2 separate regions of the Homo sapiens genome follow, and region 1 is linked to region 2. The links come from fine-mapping of genetic effects on gene expression. A gene starts in region 2. The other region holds a variant in brackets. All regions are shown on one strand. Distances are between the middles of the regions. Region 1 holds the start of LOC101927829 (a long non-coding RNA gene). Region 2 holds the start of SGO1-AS1 (SGO1 antisense RNA 1).

Region 1 (17,367 bases), 170 kb after region 2:
TGTACAAGAGAGCAATGAGAAACTGATAGCACTAGATGGAAATTTATGTCTTATCCAAAGGCTCTGGTATAACATCTTCAGTTAGCTGGGGGGCTCCAGGTCTCACAGAAACAAAAGTCCTTAAGGTTTAAGAATTTCTTCTTTCTTAAATATTTCCAGGACAACCTAGAGACCACTGTTAGTAGATCATCCATTGAGAAGGGTATATGTGAAATGTGAGAAAGTGGAGAGTTACCCATTGGATTTCAATGATTTTCTGGGCCTGTAGTAAATTACAGTTGTGGCCTCAGTTCTTTACCCATCACTGTATGCACATGTTTTGCTCTGTGGCTGCATTTTCTCTCAATGAAAAGATAGAGTCTCTTTCCCTTGAATTTGGGCTTACTTGTGAATTGCTTTGCCCAACAGAATGCAGCAGAAATGACAGCATGACATTTCTGAGCCTAGGTCTAAGAAGGCATTGCATGTTTCTGTCGTCTGGCTGAGAACACTGCTATGAGAACGTTACTGGCCTAGCTTCTGCATGATGAAAGACACAGTCTCATCAGCCCCAGAGTAGTATCAGCGGAGCCATGTAGTTGACAACTCCAGACATGTAAGCAATAAATGCTTAATGTCGAATGCTGCTGATGTTTCGTGGTTGGTTGTTATGCAGTGTTATTGTGACAATAATGCCACAATATAGCTTAGGGGATTAGTTTCCAGATGGATTATACATATAAAGTTCTGATAATTTTTCATGGAAATCTTGATACTTCATTAAAATAAATAAGAAGTCGTTGCTTAGCTCAATCACCTACCATGGGACATTTATCTACTGATTTGATTTGATCTGGGGGCAAAGGTTTCAGCCTTCAGCCTGGTAGTAGCCATATGCAAATGTATTTGTGTCTCTCCCAACCTGACAGATAAACAGACAGGCATCTAGAAGTTATCAAGTAAATACTTAGATGGGATTCTTGTGTTCAGTGTGAGTGTTCTCAAAATTTCAGTAAAGAGTTCTTTCCCCTGGGACATTAGATGTGGCTTAATAATGGCCACTAGTATATTTGTATTTGCAATCAGGCACAATGAACAGAATTGCTCCCAGGTTATCATTTGGGAATTTAAACACACTCTTTTTCTTTTGCCAGGTCCATTTCTGGCATGTATGGAATGAATCAGTGTGCCATCCTTTTAAGGCCCATTCATTGTCTTCTGGTTTTATTTTACGTCCATTTCTTCCTCTTACTAGAGAAAACAATTGAATTTTGTGGAAGCCCCAGGGGTTTGTGAATTTCAGAGGGACAGGGTTTTACCTGGAAAGAGAAAGGATTTTTGATTGAAAATAGAGGCTACTTATGACTCATTCAAAGGAGTTTTTCCTCTCCTTCATCTTATTTGCCTAGTGATTTTGTCTTATATGACACTTTGGAGCCTACTGTGAGATGACTGCTTCACACTGGATCTTTTTCAAATATTTTTCAAGGACAAACATCCTTCCTACAGGTTTTCTCATCTGTAATGATTGTCTTGTCTGGGGATTGTATTCTGATTAATTCAACGTTAGCTTTCTCACTGCTTCAGTGGATTCCAAATTTGTCATAGTTAAAAAAAAATTCTCCTGGGAAGTTTTATAAAAGAAGTTGGTGAAGAGAGGGCTTAGGATTTATTCTGCTGACCAATCTTTAGAATGTGGTAGGGGACTGAGGCACACAAAAAAGAAAAATGGAAGGAATGCCCAATTCTTATGCATTCTCATAGGTCAGGCATAACTCAGGAGTTTTGCAGAAATTTCAGTGATTGTTGCTCACATGGAGGTTTTACCCTGCAGTCACCATCCAATTGAGCAAAAAGCAGTTAAAAGGATGCAATAAGGGATTCAGCCAGCAGAGGGCGGGAGAGCCACACCCAGTTGCTTGGACCAGTTACACACCTCCAAGCCAACTCGTTCTGAAGACACAAGCCTTTTTTTTGGTAAGCGTTTTGCTTTCACTAAGTCCCTTCTGACAGAATGGGCAAGAGTCAATCTGCCCGGAATTGAATACTGGCTGCACCATGCGCTAGCTTCATCATCTTTTTGTGCCTGATTATTTCTCATTGGAAAAATGGGAAAAGCATAGTCATGGTGAGGATGTCATAAGGGTGTTGCGAAGATGATGAAGTTAACTTATGTAACACATTCCAAACAGTGCTTGGTAACTACTTGATAAATATTATTTAATAGTATTATAGGCTATCCCTTTGCCTTCTGTCTTCCATCCTCCCAAGTCTGAATGCAAAAATAAATTAATATGGCAATAGGTTATGTGGGCTGATTCCTCTTCACTCTTTGAAACTCATCTCAAAAAGCGCAACATACCTTCGTGATATTTCTGCCAAAAATGCTTATGCCAAATCTAACCGCGAGAAACAGTTTAGAGTAGTTCCAAACCAGAGACATTCTACTAAATTCAGGGACATTTTTTTTTTTTTTTTTTTTTTGAGAGACAGAGTTTTGCTCTTGTTGCCCAGGCTGGAGTGCAATGGCACAATCTCGGCTCACCACAACCTCCACCTCCTGGGTTCAAGTGATTCTCCTGCCTCAGCCTCCCGAGTAGCTGGGATTACAGGTGTGTGCCACCACGCCCGGCTTATTTTGTATTTTTAGTAGAGACGGGGTTTCTCCATGTTGGTCAGGCTGGTCTCGAACTCCCGACCTTAGGTCGTCCGCTCGTCTCGGCCTCCCAAAGTGCTGGGATTACAGGCGTGAGCCACTGTGCCCAGCGTAAATTCAGGGACATTCTACTAAATAACTAGACTCTGCACTTTAAAAATTACAAGGTCATGAAAGACAAAGAAAGAATCTGAAACTGTTCCAGATTGTAGGATACTAAAGACACATGAAAGCTGAATGCAGCATATGAGCTGGGGATTTCTTCTGCTGTAGAGTACACATTGGGACAATTGGTGAAATTTGAATAAGGTCTGTAGATAAGATCGTAGTATTGTATCAGTATTGATTACCTGATTTTGTTACTTGTAGGCTACAGAAGAGAATGTCCTTGCTTTTAGGAAATATACACCAGAATCTTCAAGAGTAAATGGGGCATCATAATTTCTGTAAGTTACTCTCAATTTTTTTTTTTTTTTTTTTTTTTTTTTTTTTTAGACAGAGTCTCTGTTGCCCAGGCTGGAGTGCAGTGGTACGATCTTGGCTCACTGTAGCCTCCACACCCTGGGTTCAAGGGATTCTCCTGTCTCAGCCACCCAAGTAGCTGGGATTACAGGCGTGCACCGCCATTCCCAGCTAATTTTTGTATTTTTGATAGAAACGGGGTTTCACCATTTGACTAGGCTGGCTGGAACTCCTAGTCAGGACTTCAAGTGATCCACCCACCTCAGCCTCCCAAAGTGCTGGGATTACAGGCATGAGCCACCGCGCCCAGCCCCAAATTTTTTTTGAAAAAAGAAATGTATATTTGTGTGTGTGTGTTTGTGCGTGTATGTGCATATCTGTATGTAAGCATATTTGATATAATAGCATTTAGTACATCTGGTTAAAGGGCATATGAGAATTCTTTGTAGTGTTCTTGCAACTTTTGTTAGCCTGAAATTACATCAAAATACAAAGGTAAAAAATAAAACCATAAATAAAAAATACAATCCCAGCTCTCAGGATGCCTCCTTCTTTAATAGTTTTCCCTGATGTCCCCTGCCTTACCCTTTGCCTTAGGTGGGTTAGGAGCCCTGGCCCTGTGTGCCCTCAGTCTGTAGCTTCTCTCTCTGTCACAGCACTGTATTACACTGTATTGTGACCACCTGATTATGTCATTAAACTATGAGCTGGGACAAAGAAGGCAGGGGTGCTATCTCATTCAACTTTGTATCACCTGAGCTTAACTAACACCTGGCACAGAGAAGAAACATATTAAGGATTTGCTGAGAGAATAAGATAGTATAACTTGGTCTTATATCTAAGGTTTGATTTTCTAGGAACCTATAGTGAATTTTAGGCTTGCTTTTCAGTTTTTGTAGCAGGGATGTAGCACAGGTTTGGGACTCAGCACACCTAGTCTGAAAGCTGATTTCTGTCACAGCATGCATGAGGGACAGTCTCTTCAGTTTATTTATACCTTAGTGCTGTGATTCTCGAGCTTATAGACACTGTGAGGACAGAATTTTAGCTCTTTAAACAAAGGGGGGCAAATATACAGTGACCTCTATCTATGTAGGTATTTAACTGAAAGGAATTCCAGGGCCAAGTGTGTCTACTATTAAAAGAAACGTACTTTTCTTACAATGTAGTCCCTGAATGCAAATCATGGTTTTATCTGGTGGGCAACTGAAGAAACAGCAATCTGAACTGATATGGGAGGCAGACCTCACTGTAACAGGATTAGTGAGAAACAGTGTTTGTGGCTCTTAATTGCTCATTTTTTTTTTTTTAATGGGGGATGTTAGGGATTTTCTAAGGGCAGGTTTATCCATATGCAGAGTTGATGTTAGGATGTAATACCACAAAGATGTAATTAACTCCTCTGTTTGTGGTCTCCATGTTAATTCACTCTCATAAGAGGGTATGCAGTGTGGTCACTATTCTACCACCATTTTTAAGAAAAAATTTAAAACTATTTTTTATCTTCCAAATTAAATATTTTGCTATTTGATAAGTTAACAATGCAACAGAAAATCAATATAACTTTTATCTTTACCAGAAGCCATAAAAGTCTATCTAGGAAAATTTCAGATGTGTGAACATGGCTTTAGAGAAGGAACTCAACTACAGACTATAAGAAATGTAAAACCAAGCCAGGTTCCTGTTGTGGTCCTTTATTATGACCTGGTGACCTAAGCTAGAGAATCACAGCACTAAGGTATAAGTAAACCAAATAGCATGCATTGGCTTTAGTTCAGAAGGGGATTTTTGTGCAGAAAATAAATTGAAAGTAGGGCCTCTGGCCAGCATAAACAGATAAGAAAAAAGTATGATTCCCTACGTCTCAAAAATGACTCCTTCACACATCCCACCAATCAAAGATCCATTTGGAATAACAGGTCTTCTAAAAGCTGCCATAGAAGTTAAGCCTCCTACCACCTATACTTCTGTGTGAATTGATTTAGTCTGGAGGCATTTTGATTGCTTTTCTCCTAACACCTAACTTAGAAGGTGAAATAGAGGTCTTGTTTGGAGGGAATTGAAGAAGGAAAAGGAAAGGGCAATTTCAGATCAAGGGATATGTTGGAATGGTGGAAAAGTAGGATCATTAGGACAGCTGGGAACAGTCTTTTAGTTCTTGGAAGCCAGGAAAAAGATGTAGAGAGAAGGGCAGAAGTGGTCAAGGCTCCATGAAAAGGAGGATGTAGCAGTCAAATTGGATGTCGACCATGCAACAATGACGTCAGGAACCCTGCTTGGTATACCATCTGTACCTGTCTGTACAGGTCAGTTCTGTAACTGTCTGCCTCGAAGAATTGCCTGGCTTGTTTCTCTCAAAGAATGGACTCTAGCTTATCTATAATAGAATATACCTATGTTGGTGGTCAATAAACACTAATTTAATTAAACCTGTAATGCTTTTGAGACTTTTGCCATATCTTCTGTTATTTGGGACCTCACCACCTGGAACTTGATTTTGCAACAAAATTCAAAAAATACTTGGCCAAAACTAACTTCCCCTGAACTTGACAAATAAAATGAACAATTCAAGAACAGCCAACTGAGTAATTCTGGTATATAAACTGTCACTATTAAATGGCTTATTTATCGAAATAGCATTCAATCTTACATGGGCATTCAAGAATTTTAGGAGAGACAATGGATATTTCTCCAAACCCTAAAAATCCCATAAAGCAGGGGCAGCAGGACAGAAAGCTTTTATTCTTGTCAAAATCAATCTTGACTTTGGTACATCACAATGGCTGCATGACAATGTCACATTCTTGTCCACTTAGGTAAATGTGTTTGGCTCACTTGGCCATCATTCTGGAATTAAGAGCCTTTGCAGTATAAAACCAAGATTTGAATAACAGTAAAGGTCAGAGCTCAAAATTAGAAAGAAAAAAGACAAGAAATGGCTGATAGGAGGTTGGCACAGACATGAAACCTGATCATGCTGAAAGCACTTGGGGAGGGAGAGAAAAGGGAAACTTTGAATGAGTAATAGAGAATAGCATGGTGTATATACCATATTTGTAGATTTCTTAGTTATCTGTTGTATGGTTCCTTCTGACACCACTATAAATAACTTCCTGAGACTGGGTAATTTATAAAGAAAAGAGGTTTAATTGACTCACCATTCTTCATGGTTGGGGAGGCCTCAGGAAACTTACAATCATGGCAGAAAGGGAAGCAGGCATGTCTTACATGGCACGTGGAGAGAGAGAGTGAGTGTGAAGGAGGAACTGTCAAACACTTATAAAACCATCAGATCTTGTGAGAACTCACTATCATGAGAACAGCATGGAGGAAACTGCCCCCATGATCCAATCACCTCCCACCAGCTCCCTCCCTTGACACGTGGGGATTATGGGGATTACAATTTGAGATGAGATTTCGGTGGGAACACAGAGCCAACCAAACCATATAATCTGTCCTCTGCTCCTAGATTTTTCCCTTAAAAATGCTCAGGATAACTTATTAGAAGAAATGCCCTTTTAGGGAAAAATAAAAGTTTAAATCAGGCTGGTACATTCATTTATGGATCAGTCCAATTCACCTTATTCAGGTCTGCATCTTCTCTCCTTTGAATAGCTATGATCATCCTGTAACTGCTGATGCTGCCTCATTGCTCTGCTCCATTGCCTCACCCCAAGCTTTCAAAGTCATCTCCTACTCTACTCCAGGGTAATTTTTCTAAAATGCAAATACTGTTGTTTGGCAGCTCTACTTAAAAGCTTTTAGTGACTTTCTATTTTCTGTGGAGTAAGTCTCAAAGTACACAGCATTAGAACCTTTATATTCTACCCCTCCTACCTTATGTCTTACGATTTCCCATTGTTAATTTTAGCTTCACACAGTTTTACTAATTTATATCTCCAAATCTTTTTTTTTTTTTTTTGAAACAGAGTTTCACTCTTGTTGCCCAGGCTGGAGTACAATGGCATGATCTCGGCTCACTGAAACCTCTGCCTCCTGGGTTCATTCAAGCGATTCTCCTGCCTCAGCCTCCTGAGTAGCTGGGATTACAGGCATGCACCACCACGCCCGGCTAATTTTGTATTTTTAGTGGAGATGGGGTTTCTCTATGTTGGTGAGGCTAGTCTCGAACTCCTGACCTCAGGTGATCCACCTGCCTTGGCCTCCCAAAGTGCTGGGATTACAGGCATGGGCTACTGCGCCTGGCCTGTATCTCCAATTCTTTACATATGCCTGACGAACTGCTATTCCATCTTGTAGGGCTAAAATCAAATTTTTTTTCATTTTTGGGAAGCCTCCTCTACATACCTCCACCTTCTAACTCCAAGAAGTCAAAGTGAGTATATCATTGATGTTGCCACTTAATCTAGTATATATGTGTGTATTTGTGTGTGTGTGTATATATATATATGCACACACACACAGAGAAATATATTTCTATATATATTTCTAATATATAGTAGTTAGAAATACATATTTAATAAATATACAGTAGTTAGACATATATATATGTTAGTCATAATCTAACAGGAGATAAGTATATAAGCAGCTGCAATTAGGTTATTTTTCAAAATGTAGTTAGAAATATATATATGTCTACTATATATTATACATATTAAATATATATTTCTAACTACATTTTGAAAAATAACCTAATTGCAGCTGCTTATATACTTATCTCCTGTTAGATTATGACTTTCTTCAAAGTTGACACCTAATTTATTTTCATAGATCCAGGACATGGCATATAATAGGTGCTTGTTAATTGCTTTTTGGATGAATGAATGAATGAATGAACGAATGAAGGTTTCATGCCTAAATCTCTGGATTTAGTTAGTAGCTCAATGAGTAAAACTAAGGACTGTTTACTAGATATCAGCCTTTGCTTAGTTCTGAGCTATGGTAGTTGGAAAGTGAAGGAAATATTGGTTGGAAAGGAGAGTTTGGGTCAATGCAGACCTGAATCCATTTTTGAGAGAGATTAAATTTAGAAAACAAGCTGAATGGCAGAATGGTAGTTATTACTGAATAGGGGAGATATTCATGTTAGTATCAAAAAACATTGTTCAGTTAAGTAATATGAACGGGAAATTACTCTATTAGAGGAGGTCATGCTCTTGTTTTTGGGTAAGAATTAAATGTATTGAAATAGCAGGATTAGAGGAATATGAATTGGTCAGCAAGAAAACAAATGTTATGGTCAACAAGGTGCTTGAAGCTGCAGATATGGTGAAGAGCAAGGGACTCTGTGGCTGTGACATTCTGTTAACTATACTGAGAGGGAAAGGGAGACAGGGTGGGATCTGGGAAGAGTTTGTGCAGGCAACCAAGACTGCGATCACATTTTTTACTACACCAGGACTCCCCGTTCCCTAGTGTGGGGAAACCTTCCCACTCCATGCAGCAATGCCTGAGTGATGATGAGCAATAAAGGTTCATGAATTTTCTATTTATTGGTGCTATAGCAGCTGCTACAGTTAGAGGCTCACAGCTTGATACCTCAGCTGTACACAAGTTTCTGACCTAGTGTGTTGCTCTTTTGAAAAAATATTTTATAATGAAAATTCTCAGATATACAAAATAGATTTTGCTCATGTACCCATGACCTAGCTTTAACAAATATAAACATTTTGTGATCTTTTTTTCTGGCATTTTTAAAAGCAAATTTTAGACTCATTTTATGCTGTACATCAATATATCAGTATGGATCTCTAACTGATAAGGATATTAAAAATAATATAACCACCAAGATATTACCACATCTAGGGTTGCTCTTAATATGCTCAAGGACCCTGCTTCTCCCACCTGTCTTCCCTCTATCAGGCCGTATGTACTATTATTGGTTATGCCTATGTCATTGCCTTTCTGAGAGAAGAGTCTGCCACTACACCCATTTTTCTTGTGTTTGTAGACTCATCTTCCATTTGCAAAATATAATATATGAGGAATGAAGTTTTCTGGCTATTACCTTTGTCTAGCCTATACCTGATATCTGAATCAGCAGAAAGATGTATTCAATTTGTAACCTAATCAGGCTATTTCAAGCCATACCCCTCCCTGCCATGTAAAAAGGGTGCTCCTGACCTTTTTCTTTGAGCCAGGATCTTGCTCTGTCACACAGGCTGCAGTGCAGTGGTACGATCATAGCTCACAGCAGCTTCAAACTCTTGGGCTCAAGGGACCCTCCCTTCTCAGCCTCCTCAGTAGTTAGGACTACAGGCACATGTTACCGCGCTTGGCTAACTTTTTTTTTTCTTTTTATAAAGATGAAGTCTCACCATATTGATCAGACTGGTCTTGAAGTCCTGGCTTCAAATGATCTTCCCTCCTCAGCCTCCCAAACTGCTGGGATTATAGA[T/G]GTGAGCCACTGCACCTGGCCAAAAGGGTTCATTAAAAAAAAAAAATCTTAACTTTTTTTAGAGTTTTCAGAGACTTTCAAGCAGAGTAAATATGCCAAGTGTTTATAGTTGTGGAATTGCCTGTTCTGCCTGTCAGTTTTGGGGAGAATAAAGGAAGTTCATTCTCCTAGTGGCTTTCTGATGCAACCCAAGATGCTGGTGACCATTTTGATTGTTCTCTTTGCCCCTCTTTGCTACCAGAGAAGGTCAAATCCACTTATATGGGGTAGGATAAATCAACAGAGTGGATACAAAGAATTCTGGCCATCATGTGGCCAGGATGGCCAGATCTACTTGGCAAGCTAAAGCATGTATGTAAAGATTTAACTGTCCATAAGGCATTGAAGTTAAGTGTCCAAAGTTAAGGGTGTTCATGCTGTAGGCATTAAGAAGAGTGGAAGGCACTTCTAACTGGAAATAGTCCTAGGTTCTTGAAAGGAAGTGAAATTTCACCAGAACTTTGACTGCTGGTCACAACTCATAGATAATAAGGGGTTTGGGAGTGCGATGGGAAGAAAAACAGAGCAAGCAAAGCATAGAGAGGTGAAAGCACAAGGCAGGTGTAGGGAAGCACGGATAACATAGTGTAGCAGTCATTTGCGATGACTTGCATGGCATATCACCCCCTTCCCACCTAATTTAAGGTCAGGTGACTTAGACAATTCCATGCACATTGACAGTGTCCCAACTCAAGTGTTGACTATGATATTGCTCTGATTTTTGGCCTCAGGGCTTCCTCTGATGCCTACAAAGGCTGCTTAGCACCACAAAGACTGTCCATAAGAATGGCAGAGTCCATGTTTGTGGTGACAGCCTTCAACTAACGGAGGTGGAAGACAGTGGAAAATGTCCCAGAGTTGTCACAGGGACAATTCTGACATGCATTTTACATGGCTTCTCAGAGAGACCCACTGGGACTGAGTCTCATTGCCCACAGTTGTTACTAGCTCCACCATGCATCCTTGCATTGGCTGACCCTCTTCCCCTGTTCCACTTCTGTGACCCACGCTTCTGCTTGCTGAGAATTGTGAGAACCCAAACTAAGACATCGATTTTGGTAGAAATGAGAAAATATGCCAGGGAAACAGTGAAAAACAAATCCAGAATGACAGGTTTATAAAAAGACTTTCTTACTAATTAAAAAAAAAAGTCTATTTCCCTATTTGCTTTCTGCTTGCTTTTTTCTTGCTGTTATTTAGAAAAGTGAAAACGAAAACAATACTTTTAGATTACAATTCACATGGAACTAGGCTTGTCCTATAGTTTACAGTCCTTATGGATTCTGAGTTTAAGGATTCTGTCCCATTATCTTTCCTTATTGCAGTAAATGACAATCTATTCTTCCTGTTATTCAGGACAAAAATATTGGGGGGTAATCTCTGATTATTTTCTTATTCTTGCAACCCACTTCTGATCTGTCAGAAAATCCTGTTGGATCCACCTTCACAATACATGCAGAAGCTGGATGGCCATTTCTCAGTATCTTCACTACTACAGCTCCGGTTAGGCCACAGTTGTCTTTCACTGGGACTGTTGCAAGAGCAATCTGTTTAGTTTCACTGCTCCTGCCCTTAGGTCCCTACCATCTATTCCCAACAAAACGGGCAAAGTGATTCTCTTAAAATATAAGTCACACCACACCTTTCCAATACCCTGCACCCTCCTTTGATTCAGCTTTGAGTAAAAGCCAACGTTCTTACAATGACTGAGTAAATGCTGAAGTTTTGGCTTGGTCTTTCATCTCTTTCCTTCCTTGACCCTTTTTATTACTGCTTATCCCCTTGATTATTCCACTGCAGCCCGTGGGTCTCATGACTAAACTCCAACAGGCCAGCGTCCTCCCCACCCAGGCCAGCATTCTCCCAACTCGGGTCAGTGTTCTCCCAACTCTTTGCACTTATGTAATCTCACACTGGAGGGCTCCTCTCATCTCCCATAACCACATAGCTCACTCCCTCACCTCCTGGGCTGTTTGCTTACCTGTCATATTTTTAAGACAGTCCTTCCTTGGCTTACCTATCTGAAATTGAAGCACCTACGTGAACATATCCTTTCCTTTTCCCCTGCTTTATTCTTCCCTTTAGTATGTTTTACTATCTAATAAGCATGTATTTTATTCATGTACATTTTTTTCTTCCTTCCAGGAGGCAATCTCCATGAGGGCAGGTGTGTTTTCTTTTGGTGGGATCGGGAGAGGGGAGGTGTCTCTATTGTTCATTGTTCTCTTTCCTGTCCAGAATAGCATGTATACACCATGACGGCTAATTTTAGGTGTCAATTTGATTGGGGTAAGGGACGTCCAGATAGCTGGTAAAACACAATTTCTGTCTGTGTTTGTGACAGTGTATCTGGAAGAGATCAGCATTTGAATTGGGAGTCTGTGTAAAGAAAATCACCCTTACCAATGTGGATGGGTATTATCCAGTCTGTTGAGGCCATGAATAGAACAAAAGGGCAGAGGAAGGGCAAATTTGCTTCTGTTTAGTTGGGACACTCATCCTTTCTTGCCCTTGGACATTGGTGCACCTGGTTCTTGGGCCTTTTGACTCAGACTGAATCACACCACTGGCTTTCCTTGTTTTCCAGCTTGCAGACAACAGATCATGGAACTTCTTGGCCTCCATAATCTCATGAGCCAATTTCTGTAAGTCTCTCTGTCTCTCTGGAGAACCTTGGCTAATATACACACACACCATGATTGATAGTGGATGCCCAATAAATGCATTCCAAAATATATGGATGCCCAATAAATATGTGTAAGTATGAATACTCAATAAATAAACAAAAATGAAAGAACGGATATGTGACCTTACTTAGCTTCTCTGGGACTCTATTTAATCTCTCTGAAGCTCTGTATTTTTCAGCTGAAGATGGGGATCCAATACCTAACTCACAGGAGCAAATCAAATAATGTATTTAAAGACCTTAGGAGGGAAAAAAACCTCTCTCCTAAGGTCTTTGGATAAATGGCTGAACTACTACTTGTCAGAAGTTATGTTCTGATTTTTAGTTCAGAAACCGAAGTCCTGAGATTTCTATCTTAAACCATGGAAGGATACTTTTAGAAGCTTTATAATTGAAGTCTAAGATCATAAAAATAACTTATTTTCAATTTATTTTTCTAAGAAAAGCATGTGGGGCTCCCTTGGCATCTTTGACTTGTAGAAAGTGTAATATGGAGTTTCCAGACTAGAACACAAGCTCCATACAAAGAGGTACCTAATTATCTTGTAAGTTCCTAGTGACTGCACCTGTTGTATAATAGGTTCTCAATAAATATATGTTGAATGAATAAACAAAGAAAATGTAAAGTTTTTCCTCCATTTAAGGTGTCCCAATAGTGAAGCTGAGACCTAGCAAGATCTATGAACTGTTTCTTTCCTCTAATTTCAATTTTTAAACATTTTTGTGGGTATATAGTAGGTGGATGTATTTATGGAGTACATGAGATATTTTGATACAGGCATTCAATGTGAAATAAGTACATCATGGAGAATAGGGTATTCACCCCATCAAGCATTTATCCTTTGAGTTACAAAAAGTCCAATTACACTCTTTAAGTAATTTTGAAATGTACAGTTAAGTTATTATTGACTATAGTCACCTTATTGTGCTATCAAATAGTAGGTCTTATTCATCCTTTCTATTTTGTTTGTACCCACTAACTATCTCCACCACCCCACCAGCCCCCAACTACCCTTCCCAGCCTCTGGTAACTATCCTCTACTCTCTTTGTCCATGAGTTCAATTGTTTTGGTTTTTAGACCCCACAAATAAGTGAGAACATGTGGTGTTTGTCTTTCTGTGTCTGGCTTATTTTAGCTAACATAATGATCTCCAGTTCCATCCACGTTATTGCAAATGAAAGGATATCATTCTTTTTTTGGCTGAGTAGTACTCCACTGTGTATATGTACCACGTTTTCTTTATATATTCATATCTTGATTAACACAGGTTGTTTCCAATTCTTAGCTGTTGTAAACAGTGCTGCAACAAATATAGGAGTGCAGATATCGCTTCAATATACTGATTTCCCTTCTTTGGGGTATATATGCAGTAGTGGGATTGCTGGATCACATGGTAGCTCAATTTTTAGTTTTTTTGAGGAACCTCCAAACTGTTCCCCATAATGTTTTTACTAATTTATCTTCCCACCAACAGTGTATGAGGGTTCCCTTTCCTTCACCTCCTTTCCAGCATTTGTCGTTGCCTGTCTTTTGGATATAAGGCATTTTTACTAGGGTGTGATGATATCTTATTGTGGTTTTGATTTGCATTTCGAATGCAAATCAAATGGTGATTTGATATTGAGCACCTTTTCATATGTCTGTTTGCCATTTGTATGTCTTCTTTTGAGAAATGTCTATTGAAATCTTTTGCCTATTCTTTGATCAAATTATTACATTTTTTTCTATAGAGTTGTTTGAGCTCCTTACATATTCTGGTTATTACCCTCTTGTCAGATGGGTAGTTTGCAAACACATTCTCCCATTATATGGGTTGTCTCTTCACTTTGTTGATTGTATCCTTTTCTGGGAAGAAGCTATTTAACTTGCTGTGATCCCGTTTGTACATTTTTGCTTTGGTTGCTTGTGCTTGTGGGGTATTGCTCAATAAATTTTTGCTCAGACCAATGGCCTAGAGACTTTCCCCAATATTATCTTGTAGTAGTTTAATAGTTTGAGGTTTTAGATTTAGGTCCTTCATCCATTTTTATTTTATTTTTGCATATGGCAAGAGATAGGGGTCTAGTTTCATTCTTCTGCACATGGATATCAGTTTTCCCAGCACCGTTTACTGATAATGGACTGTTTCTTTCCCTCCAGCAAGAAGCCACAGATGTTGACTTCCTCCAGCGTTGCTGACTCACCCCTTCCCTGATCTTTCATTTGGGTTGTGTTCCTCCCTAGCAACTTTTCTGATGTGTTAATGTCATTCATTCTTAGCACATGACTGACCCAGCATCTGTTCTTTTCCTAATAGATGAAGTGCTGGGAGAGAAGGGTAGGTATTTACTATTTCCACTATATAACAGGCTTATCTTTAGGGAGTGATTGTGTAGATATCAAGAGGGAGAAAGAGAATGAATTTAGTGGAGGTTTTTGAGTTGTTTGTATAAAAGATTGAGCCCATTGAGCAGTGATTGCAAATGAGAGAAATGGTTATGTATACAGTTCTCCTGAAGAATAGAGAGCACCATCTACTATAAAATTTTAAAAAATCAAGTATCCCTCCCCAGGTGATGTTTCTAATTTTTAGAGAATAGTTGTTCTTACTCATGAGTAACATGTAGTATACAAATGCAGAAGTCTGTTAGTTTCGATGGTTGAATCTGGATTAGTTTCTTTTGCATTCCTAAGATTATAGTCTTAGTAAAACCAGCACAAAAATGTCTATACTGATGAGCATCTGACACTTCAGATCATTTGGATTTTTTCTGGGGCTGTGTGATGGTTGGAGGGTAAGGGGGTGGAAGTGGCTTTTAAAGAGGACCTATTAACTATAGATTTTGGAAAAACATATAATGATTTTGTTGTTTCATTTAATGTATACAAATTTACAAATAAAATATGGTTTCAAGTAAGCAGAAAAAAAACCATGACTTTCAAAATTAGCACTACACCTTTTTTTTTATTATTATACTTTAAGTTTTAGGGTACATGTGTACAATGTGCAGGTTAGTTACATATGTATACATGTGACATGCTGGTGCGCTGCACCCACTAACTCGTCATCTAGCATTAGGTATATCTCCCAATGCTATCCCTCCCCCCTCCCCCAACCCCACAATAGTCCCCAGAGTGTGATATTCCCCTTCCTGTGTCCATGTGTTCTCATTGTTCAATTCCCACCTATGAGTGAGAATATGCGGTGTTTGGTTTTTTGTTCTTGCGATAGTTTACTGAGAATGATGATTTCCAATTTCATCCATGTCCCTACAAAGGACATGAACTCATCATTTTTTATGGCTGCATAGTATTCCATGGTGTATATGTGCCACATTTTCTTAATCCAGTCTATCATTGTTGGACATTTGGGTTGGTTCCAAGTCTTTGCTATTGTGAATAGTGCCGCAATAAACATACGTGTGCATGTGTCTTTATAGCAGCATGATTTATAATCCTTTGGGTATATACCCAGTAATGGGATGGCTGGGTCAAATGGTATTTCTAGTTCTAGATCCCTGAGGAATCGCCACACTGACTTCCACAATGGTTGAACTAGTTTACAGTCCCACCAACAGTGTAAAAGTGTTCCTATTTCTCCACATCTTCTCCAGCACCTGTTGTTTCCTGACTTTTTAATGATTGCCATTCTAACTGGTGTGACATGATATCTCATTGTGGTTTTGATTTGCATTTCTCTGATGGCCAGTGATGGTGAGCATTTTTTCATGTTTTTTGGCTGCATAAATGTCTTCTTTTGAGAAGTGTCTGTTCATGTCCTTCACCCACTTTTTGATGGGGTTGTTTGTTTTTTTCTTGTAAATTTGTTTGAGTTCATTGTAGATTCTGGATATTAGCCCTTTGTCAGATGAGTAGGTTGTGAAAATTTTCTCCCATTTTGTGGGTTGCCTGTTCACTCTGATGGTAGTTTCTTTTGCTGTGCAGAAGCTCTTTAGTTTAATTAGATCCCATTTGTCAATTTTGGCTTTTGTTGCCATTGCTTTTGGTGTTTTAGTTGTGAAGTCCTTGCCCATGCCTATGTCCTGAATGGTAATGCCTAGGTTTTCTTCTAGGGTTTTTATGGTTTTAGGTCTAACATTTAAGTCTTTAATCCATCTTGAATTAATTTTTGTATAAGGTGTAAGGAAGGGATCCAGTTTCAGCTTTCTCCGTATGGCTAGCCAGTTTTCCCAGCACCATTTATTAAATAGGGAATCCTTTCCCCATTTCTTGTTTTTCTCAGGTTCGCCAAAGATCAGATAGGTGTAGTATGTGGCGTTATTTCTGAGGGCTCTGTTCTGTTCCATTGATCACTATCTGTTTTGGTGCCAGTACCATGCTGTTTTGGTTACTGTAGCCTTGTAGTATAGTTTGAAGTCAGGTAGCGTGATGCCTCCAGCTTTGTTCTTTTGGCTTAAGATTGACTTGGTGATGCGGGCTCTTTTTTGGTTCCAGATGAACTTTAAAGTAGTTTTTTCCAATTCTGTGAAGAAAGTCATTGGTAGCTTGATGGGGATGGCATTGAATCTATAAATTACCTTGGGCAGTATGGCCATTTTCACGATATTGATTCTTCCTACCCATGAGCATGGAATGTTCTTCCATTTGTTTGTATCCTCTTTTATTTTATTGAGCAGTGGTTTGTAGTTCTCCTTGAAGAGGTCCTTCACGTCCCTTGTAAGGTGGATTCCTAGGTATTTTCTTCTCTTTGAAGCAATTGTGAATGGGAGTTCACTCATGATTTGGCTCTCTGTTTGTCTGTTATTGGTGTATAAGAATGCTTGTGATTTTTGTACATTGATTTTGTATCCTGAGACTTTGCTGAAGTTGCTTATCAGCTTAAGGAGATTTTGGGCTGAGACAATGGGGTTTTCCAGATATACAATCATGTCATCTGCAAACAGGGACAATTTGACTTCCTCTTTTCCTAATTGAATACCCTTTATTTCCTTCTCCTGCCTAATTGCCCTGGCCAGAACTTCCAACACTATGTTGAATAGGAGTGGTGAGAGAGGGCATCCCTGTCTTGTTCCAGTTTTCAAAGGGAATGCTTCCAGTTTTTGCCCATTCAGTATGATATTGGCTGTGGGTTTGTCAGAGATAGCTCTTAGTATTTTGAGATACGTCCCATCAATACCTAATTTATTGAGAGTTTTTAGCATGAAGCGTTGTTGAATTTTGTCAAAGGCCTTTTCTGCATCTGTTG
Region 2 (8,000 bases):
AGGCGGAGGTTGCGGTAAGCTGAGATCGTGCCATTGCACTCCAGCCTGGGCAACAAGAATGAAATTCCGCCTCCAAAAAAAAAAAAAGATATATTTCGACTAAAATTAAGAGGTTTAGGCAGCATAAGAAATCGATATGATGATAATGCTTAAGCTCAGTTATTTATATTCAAAAGAAAAAATAAATTAAATTTATTAAAGTTTTAATACAAAGCATCCCATTTGAAGTATAGTTCTGAAGAAATGTTTATGAGCTAGGGTCCTGTCAAGAGAATATTCTATGGCAATGGCTCACTCTGTTTGTGTACTCTTACAGATCCTCTCCTGAAGCAACAGAAAGAGGTGTAGATTGAATTTAAACAATATCCAACAAAACCTTCATTGTATTTGTTTCATACTTTTTTTAGAACGTCTCAAATCCTTTTTCTGCTTGAAAATAGGAGAATTCAAAAAACACAAATCTGTAAAAGGGTCCCCTCTTCTCAGTTTCCTGTAAGAGTAAAAAGAGATCTCAGGCATAATGTAAGCATCCCAATATTAACTTACTCTTCCCTACCAAGTTATGGTAAAACACACCAATTTTAAATGTTCTCACTTCAGTTTTTTTAAATCAAATGTTTATATTTCAGAAAAAACTCATTCTTGAACAAAGCTCCATAACCTTATTCCCCCCGACATGTATCATTAAAAATAAGTTCCCACAAACCAAATACTTACGAAGCGAGGGTGGGCTCCTTATAGTTCACGCTGGCTGTGCACCTACGTTTAGGCAGAGCCACTGCTGGGCTTGCTTTATTCTTTTTTGGAGAAAGAGAAAGTCTTCTGATTTTCACAACAGGATACAAGGAGACATTGGTGATATCCTTCAGGCTAAGATGAGGTGACTGCTGAGTTTCAGGTGGTGTAGCTACAAAACAATTTTTACTGAATATGATTTAAAAAAAAAAACCCACACAAAAACTTAAATTGTACTCAATTGTATATATCTTAACTGTACACAAAATCCAGCATTTAATAATAGAATTTTTTTTTAGATGGGCTCTCACTGTGTTGCCCAGGCTGAAGTGCAGTGGTGTGATCTCAGCTCACTGCAACCTCTGCCTCCTGGTCTCAAGCAATCCTCCCACTTCAGTCTTCCAAGTAGCTGGGACTACAGGTATGCACCACCATGCCCAGCCAATAATAAATTCTTTTTTTAGCTTTTTCATCATTTTTTCCTCTTCCTTTCAAACCAGACAGTGTTGAAATATTAATTATAACAGAACACTTTACTAAAACTTAAAATTCTTCTAGGATAGCTTGGGCATAATAACTTTGTTTAACCATGGAATTTCATTTTAGTCATACCTTGCTATTTGGAATCAAGTCCTCTCTCTTTCAATACCAAGGTTTATTATCAAGTCTCTTCCTATAGTCTTATAAAGCCGCTAAAACTCCTTCTATTAAATAAATGAGAATTCTAAATAACAGCCTCTGTGTACACCAGGAGAAAAGCTAGCATGTAAAAAAGTTACTCAGTGTTTTTCCCATCATAAACATCCAAGTTATTATACTTTGAAGTTACACCTATATTGGGAGGCAAATGTCCAACACATAGTAAAGACACTGCAAAACAATCTCCTCAAATAGCTTTAAAAAGCAAACTGTATCCCCAAAAAAGTAAAAACTATAACTGTGAAATGATTGTATACTAAGAGCCATATGCTCCAGTGTTATCTGGGTTTTATAGTCTGTCCTTTTTGTTCCCACATAAATATACTGTACTGTATTAATTATTCCAACTTTCAGTTTGAGAAATATGTTGTTTGGAACAATATCAGATCAGTTGCTATATTCTGGAAAAATGCTTCTCAAACTTTAATGTGTATATGAATCCACAGGAGGACTTCTTAATGGCCAGGCACGGTGGCTCACGCCAGTAATCCCAGCACTTAGGGAGGCCGAGGTGGGCGGATCACCTGAGGTTGGCAGTTTGAGGCCAGCCTAACTAACATGGAGAAAGCCTGTCTCTACTAAAAATACAAAATTAGCTGGGCGTGGTGGCACATGCCTGTAATCCCAGCTACTCGGGAGTCTGAGGCAGGAGAATCGCTTGAACCCAGGAGGCGGAGGTTGGGATGAGCTGAGATCGTGCCACTGCACTGTAGCCTGGGCAACAAGAGTGAAACTCTGTTTCAAAAAAAAAAAAAAAAAAAAGATGCAGATTCTGACTCCACGGTATGGGGTATGGCCTGAGATTCTGCATTTCTTAAAAGACGTCTAGGGATTAAACTCTGAGTAATACCATTTTAGAGTATATTTTTTTCGTTTAAAAACGTATTTTTTATGTATTTTATGTATTTTTATGGATACAGGCTCACACATCTGTAATCCCAGCACTTTGTAAGGCCAAGGCAGGAGGACTGCTTTAGCCCAGGAATTTGAGACCACCCTGGCAACACAGTGAGACCTCATCTTCACAAAAAGTAAAAAAAAAAAAAAAAAAAAAAAATTAGCCAGGTGTGATGGCGCATGCCTGTAGTCCCAAGTACTGGGGAGGCTGAGGTGGAAGAATCACTTGAGCCTGGGAGGTTGAGACTGCAGTGAGCCATGACAGTGCCACTGCCCTCCAGCCGAGGTGATAGAGCAAGACCCTGTCTCAATTAAAAAGTGAACAACAACAAAAAAATCCCAACTTTTTCTGGACATTTTTAAATGTACACAAAGATGGCAATAACAGTATAATAAACTCTGAGTTACCCAGGTCCAATAATTATCAACACTTTGACAATCATGTTTGATTTATTCTAACATCATTATAGCATTTTTGCTTTTTTTTTTTTTGAGACTGAGTTTCGCTCTTGTTGCCTAGGCTGGAGCGCAATGGCATGGTCTCGGCTCACTGCAACCTCTGTTTCCTGGGTACAAGCAATTCTTTTTCTCCTGCCTCAGCCTCCCGAGTAGCTGGGATTACCGGCACATACCACCAGGCCTGGCTCATTTTTTTGTATTTTTAGTAGAGATGGGGTTTCACCATGTTGGCCAGGCTGGTCTTGGACTCCTGACCTCAGGTGATCCGCCCACCTCAGCCTCCCAAAGTGCTGGGATTACAGGCGTGAGCCAACCCGCCCGGCTTACAGCATATTTTTAAAAAAGATACTTGCCTGCTACCACTGACTAACTGGCCGATTTAGAAAGTTGGTTTGGTTTTTAAGGTTTTAATCTCCTTACAAACAAAATAAGCATCATAACACCTATACTTCACAGAATTGTTCTGAGGATCAAATAAAATGATGTGACAATATTTTGAAAATGATACAACTTGACTATAAATGTTAGTTTTACTTGTATTAACTAAAATTGCCAAATGAGAATCTTTGTGGACAGGTGTAGGTTGTATTACGAACATTTGAACTATGCCTACTTTTGATCTAATAAAATATTTTCTGAGCCAGTTTTTAGAGATGTCGTACAAAAGAATACTAAGCCTATCAATTGAGGAAATCTTCACTAACTAGAAGATTATTTTAAATCACGGTTCCTGTCAAATTTAATATAAAACAAGGCCATTAAAATAACAAGTCACTGGATTCAAATTTGATTTCACTTTCAAGGGGATACTTCAGTTAAGTGTATAAAAGCTACTTCAATTCAACCTAAGTCTACAAAAAAGTCCCTCTGTCCCCTTGGGAGTCCTAATTTACTGAAAATAAAAATTCTGTCTCCATAACAAGCAATCTCTGAATTAGGTCAGAGCAATACAACTGTGATTTCCACACCCAGCCCCCCACTGTTTAATCAGACCATAACTTCCACCAAAGAGAGACAGATGGTAAGTCTCCAACCTCCACCAGAGAAACAGATGGTAAGTATAGTATATAAGCATCAGGAGTGATCATTTATCACGAACATTAAAAATACAGGTAAACAAGTAGATCACTTACTGGTAGGAGTTTTTGTTGGCTTAGAACCCTCCGTCTCTTTTTCATCTGTGTATTTCAGTGCTCTTTTAGCTAGAGGCCTGGTGACTGGTCTATCTGAATTGCTCGTGGGATTCTGAATGTACTTGCAAGTGGGCAAATAGAGGTCATCGGAATCATCTCCTGAACCACTTGATTCACAGAGGCTCACTTCAGACTCGTTGTTTTCTTCTCTATTAGAGTCATTGCTCACTTTTTGTCGGAAAGGAGTAAGATGAACACCCTCTTCCAAATTAAAATTGTAAGCATCATTGGAACTGACAGATTTGTGCATTTTTTTTTGGGGAACAGTTTTTTTATTTTCGCTTTTATTCTCTTTATATTTTGACATACGTTTTGATTTTCTCCTGTTAGCTTTTCTTTTCTCTTCTCTTTTTCTTTCTTGTGTATCTCTTTGCTTACTTTTAGTTTGTTCAGATTTAGATTCTAAAATGTCTTCTTTTGTTTTAGTAAACGTTCCTGGCTGAATCAGCTTTGGTGATAAGTTAACTTGGTCCTTGCTCCATTGACAAGCATTGTGTTGTACATTTTCAGGTATGTGCATGTTTACTAGTGGGTCTAAAAATCCAACTCTTTCGAATTCAAAAGACTTCCCTGCCAAATGACTGGTTTCAAAATCATCCAAGCTATCAAACTGACATATACTGTTACAATGTTTCTTTAAACTGCTACGAACAGATACAGTTCTAGGTAAGACATTATCAGTAGACTTAGCTTCACCTGAATCAAAATCAACTCCCAGTGTGTCTTGAGGAATAGTAGGTATCTGATCTGAGAATTTAAAAAATAAATGAGAAAAGTAGTTTTACTTTGTGGAAATTTGAATTTCAAGAACTTTAGAATTCAAACTAAAAAAGTGAATGACCAAAAGGTCATTCTGTAGTTTTCCTACATTATAAAATCTGTAAATAAAAACCTGGGAACTTAAATATTACCATCTATTTACTTGTCAGTGATCAACTGATGGCTTATATCTGACATGTGAAAGAATCTTGTACAGGTTCAGTATCCCTAATCTGAAAATCTGAAATCCAAAACTTTTTTAGTGCAGTCATGATGCTCCAAGGAAATGCTAACTGGAGGGTTTTGGATTTCAGATTTTCAAATTAGGGATGATGAACTGATATAATGTAAATACTCCAAAATTTAAAAAATAAATCCAAAACACTTCTGGTCCCAAGCATTTTGGATAAGGGACATTCAATCTTTATAATCTTTAAAAACATTATAGGCCAGGCACGGTGGCTTACGCTTGTAATCCCAGCACTTTGGGAGGCCGAGGCGGGCAGATCACGAGGTCAGGAGATCGAGACCATCCTGGCTAACACAGTGAAACCCCGTCTCTACTAAAAAAAATACAAAAAATTAGCCAGGCGTGGTGGTGGGTGCCTGTAGTCCCAACTACTCGGGAGACTGAGGCAGGAGAATGGCGTGAACCCAGGAGGCAGAGCTTGTAGTGAGCTGAGATCGCACCACTGCTCTCCAAGCCTGGGCGACAGAGCAAGACTGTCAAAAAAAAAAAAAATTATAACAGGCTTTTATGTGCTCTTGGTTTAAAGAAAATGAATAGTCTATATGTATCATTGAGTACAGATTCAGAGAAGTAGAACCGCATATTCCAAAGTGGGACAAATGAGAAAGTGGGAGCTAAGTTGTTCTTTGAAAAATAAATAAGATTTGAATAACTAGAAAGCTTCTCAGGTAAGAAATATAATTTGTATTTTAAGGAAAAGTGGGGCTATGTCTGGTTTTGCTTATTCAAATACTATCCTTCCTTCGACGTCTGGTTTTGCTTATTCAAATACTATCCTTTCTTCAATGCTTGGTTCAAGTGGAGGAGATTGACACTTGAGAACATGGACATATCAATTTAAAAGTAGTAAGAAAGGGATGGCTTTGGAGTTCAACTTTGATTTTAAATGCTAGCTGTTAACATCTAGACTTCTTCATGTGAGATATTTTACCTTCTTGAGTTCCTATAAAACAGGACTAACTGTACTTATAGTCCTAGGTTGTTGTGAGGGTTAGGTGAGATTATGCACATAAAATGCCTAACATAGAGCTTGACACGTAGTAGCAATCAGTAAATTGCTGCCATAGTTATAGCCAAAGATTCAGATTACAGATTTGACACAATAAATATATTTTAACACTCTATTACTCTGTGTAAAATAAACAGATTTGCTTTGAGCAGAATACCAGATGAACAAATTTAAAAAGTTAAAAAAAAAGAATTAGATAAATTTAATTGTATTATTTGTTCTCAAAGACCTTATTTTGCCCTTAATAATATTTTTAGATTTTCACTTGAATTACCTTCTATTTGAAATGATTCTCCTTGTCCTGGAAGTTCAGTTTCTTCAAGAGGAATTTGCCTTAGAAAATACCAATGAAAAACAGAAATTTAACAATTATGTAATAAAAACAAATTCAGTATTTTCCTAAATTATAATTTTTCTTTCCTTTAGTATCATTTCATAATTCGATTTCAAATCAATACATCTATTCTGTATCAAAGGAAACCAAAGGACACTTATGCTGATTACAGGGAGACTGATTTGTTATGACTGACATTCAATTCCCACTTGAAGAACCAACCTATCAAGTTGGAGAGTTCCACCTGAAAACACATTATATAACTCAATTTAACTACGGAAACAGCCCATGAGAATTAATTTGTTAAATGTTTTTTAAAAAATGTAGTTTGATCACTCAACTCTTTAGGAGCCTGCTTTATCATTAGCAGAGCTGTGATTTGTTGGTAATATATGCTTTTATGGTGCTTAACTATTGAACTCTTCTGAAGTTAACATTGTTCATTTTCTTTACAAATGTTGTTCTTTGGTTCATGAAACATGAAGTGTTCTTTATACTCTAACACTATTACTGGCAGTTTCATTCTAATTGTAATTTTATTCTTTATTCTCTGTAGAGAATTTTCTACTCTAGACATTAAACAGATTTAGGTAAGTAATGGCTGTGGTAAATAATAACTACTTTAGAAATCTTCTACAAATTCAATTACCTTATCTTACCTTTTGCCCACAACAGATCTTAAAGTACAACAGTTTAAAAACTACTAATGATTAAAAGTAATCTATGGTGATAGAAATCATCTTAGTGGTTACTTCTGTGGAGAAGGGGATGGACTTGATAGGCATACGAAAGAACTGTCTATGGCAGTAGTTCTCATCCAAGGGCAATTATGCTCTCCAGGGAACATGCCACAATATCTGAAGTCATTTTTTGTTCTCCTGATGATGTTACTGGGATTCACTGGGTGGAGGCTATGGATGCTGCTAAACATCCCATCATGCACAGACAGCTCTCTACAACAAAGAATTATCTGGCCCACAATGTTAACAGTGAAAACACTATGTCTTCATTGAAATTTTAGTTCCACGATATATACATTAGTCAAACTCATCAAATTGTAACTGTGATCTGTGCATTTTACTGTTTATAATTAAATCTTAATAATTCATAAACAAACAAAGTACATTTGATCCAAGAGAAGGGGAGGAGGGTATATGGGATCTAGAAAAATGAACTGGATCAGCGAGACAATGGGACAACTGTGTTAAATATGATATTTTATTTATTTATTTATTTATTTATTTTCTGAACCAGACTATTCAGAGGGCTGGCAAAACATCTCATTTCAATAGCTAATCCTTCTTAGAATAAAAACATGGTACACAGAAAAGTATGACTGAAGGAAAGTATGAAGTAGAATTAAAAACTGTGGTAAGGCTTCTTTTTCCTAGGCATCAAAAAAGGAGTGAAATATAAGAAAAAGAAGGGTTTAGCTTGGCTATATGTAATAGAATTTCAACACATCAAATTCTCTTAAATATATTCTCAGTAGAGAAAGCAACAGACTACAAATATAAGAGTTGACATGATGCACATTTCCTTTCATAAATGAATCACAGAATTAAACCTTTCTTAGTATTAATAATCATGATAAAGAATTTGATACTAACGGTAAATCCTTCACAAATAAATTTCTGGAGCTGTCATCACTATTGGGGTCCATTC

Evidence for each region. PIP is the estimated chance that this variant, and not a neighbour inherited with it, causes the effect.
Region 1: its variant is the best candidate, but not a certain one, in a credible set for the expression of SGO1-AS1 in testis (GTEx, PIP 0.64).

What each region holds. Positions count from the first base shown.
Region 1 is chr3:20,338,634-20,356,000 of GRCh38, forward strand. It overlaps LOC101927829 (a long non-coding RNA gene), which reads left to right and starts at 3,835. Exons shown (of 5, transcript NR_110814.1): 1 at 3,835-5,403; 2 at 7,027-7,149; 3 at 7,392-7,433; 4 at 9,364-9,456; 5 at 12,082-12,295. The variant T/G (reference allele first, on the strand shown) is at 9,456.
Region 2 is chr3:20,170,326-20,178,325 of GRCh38, forward strand. It overlaps SGO1-AS1 (SGO1 antisense RNA 1), which reads left to right and starts at 3,961. Exons shown (of 4, transcript NR_132785.1): 1 at 3,961-4,200; 2 at 4,410-4,493; 3 at 6,892-6,925. It overlaps SGO1 (shugoshin 1), which reads right to left. Exons shown (of 8, transcript NM_001199251.3): 4 at 7,946-8,000; 5 at 6,276-6,334; 6 at 3,924-4,730; 7 at 718-907; 8 at 1-490. The coding sequence ends at 379.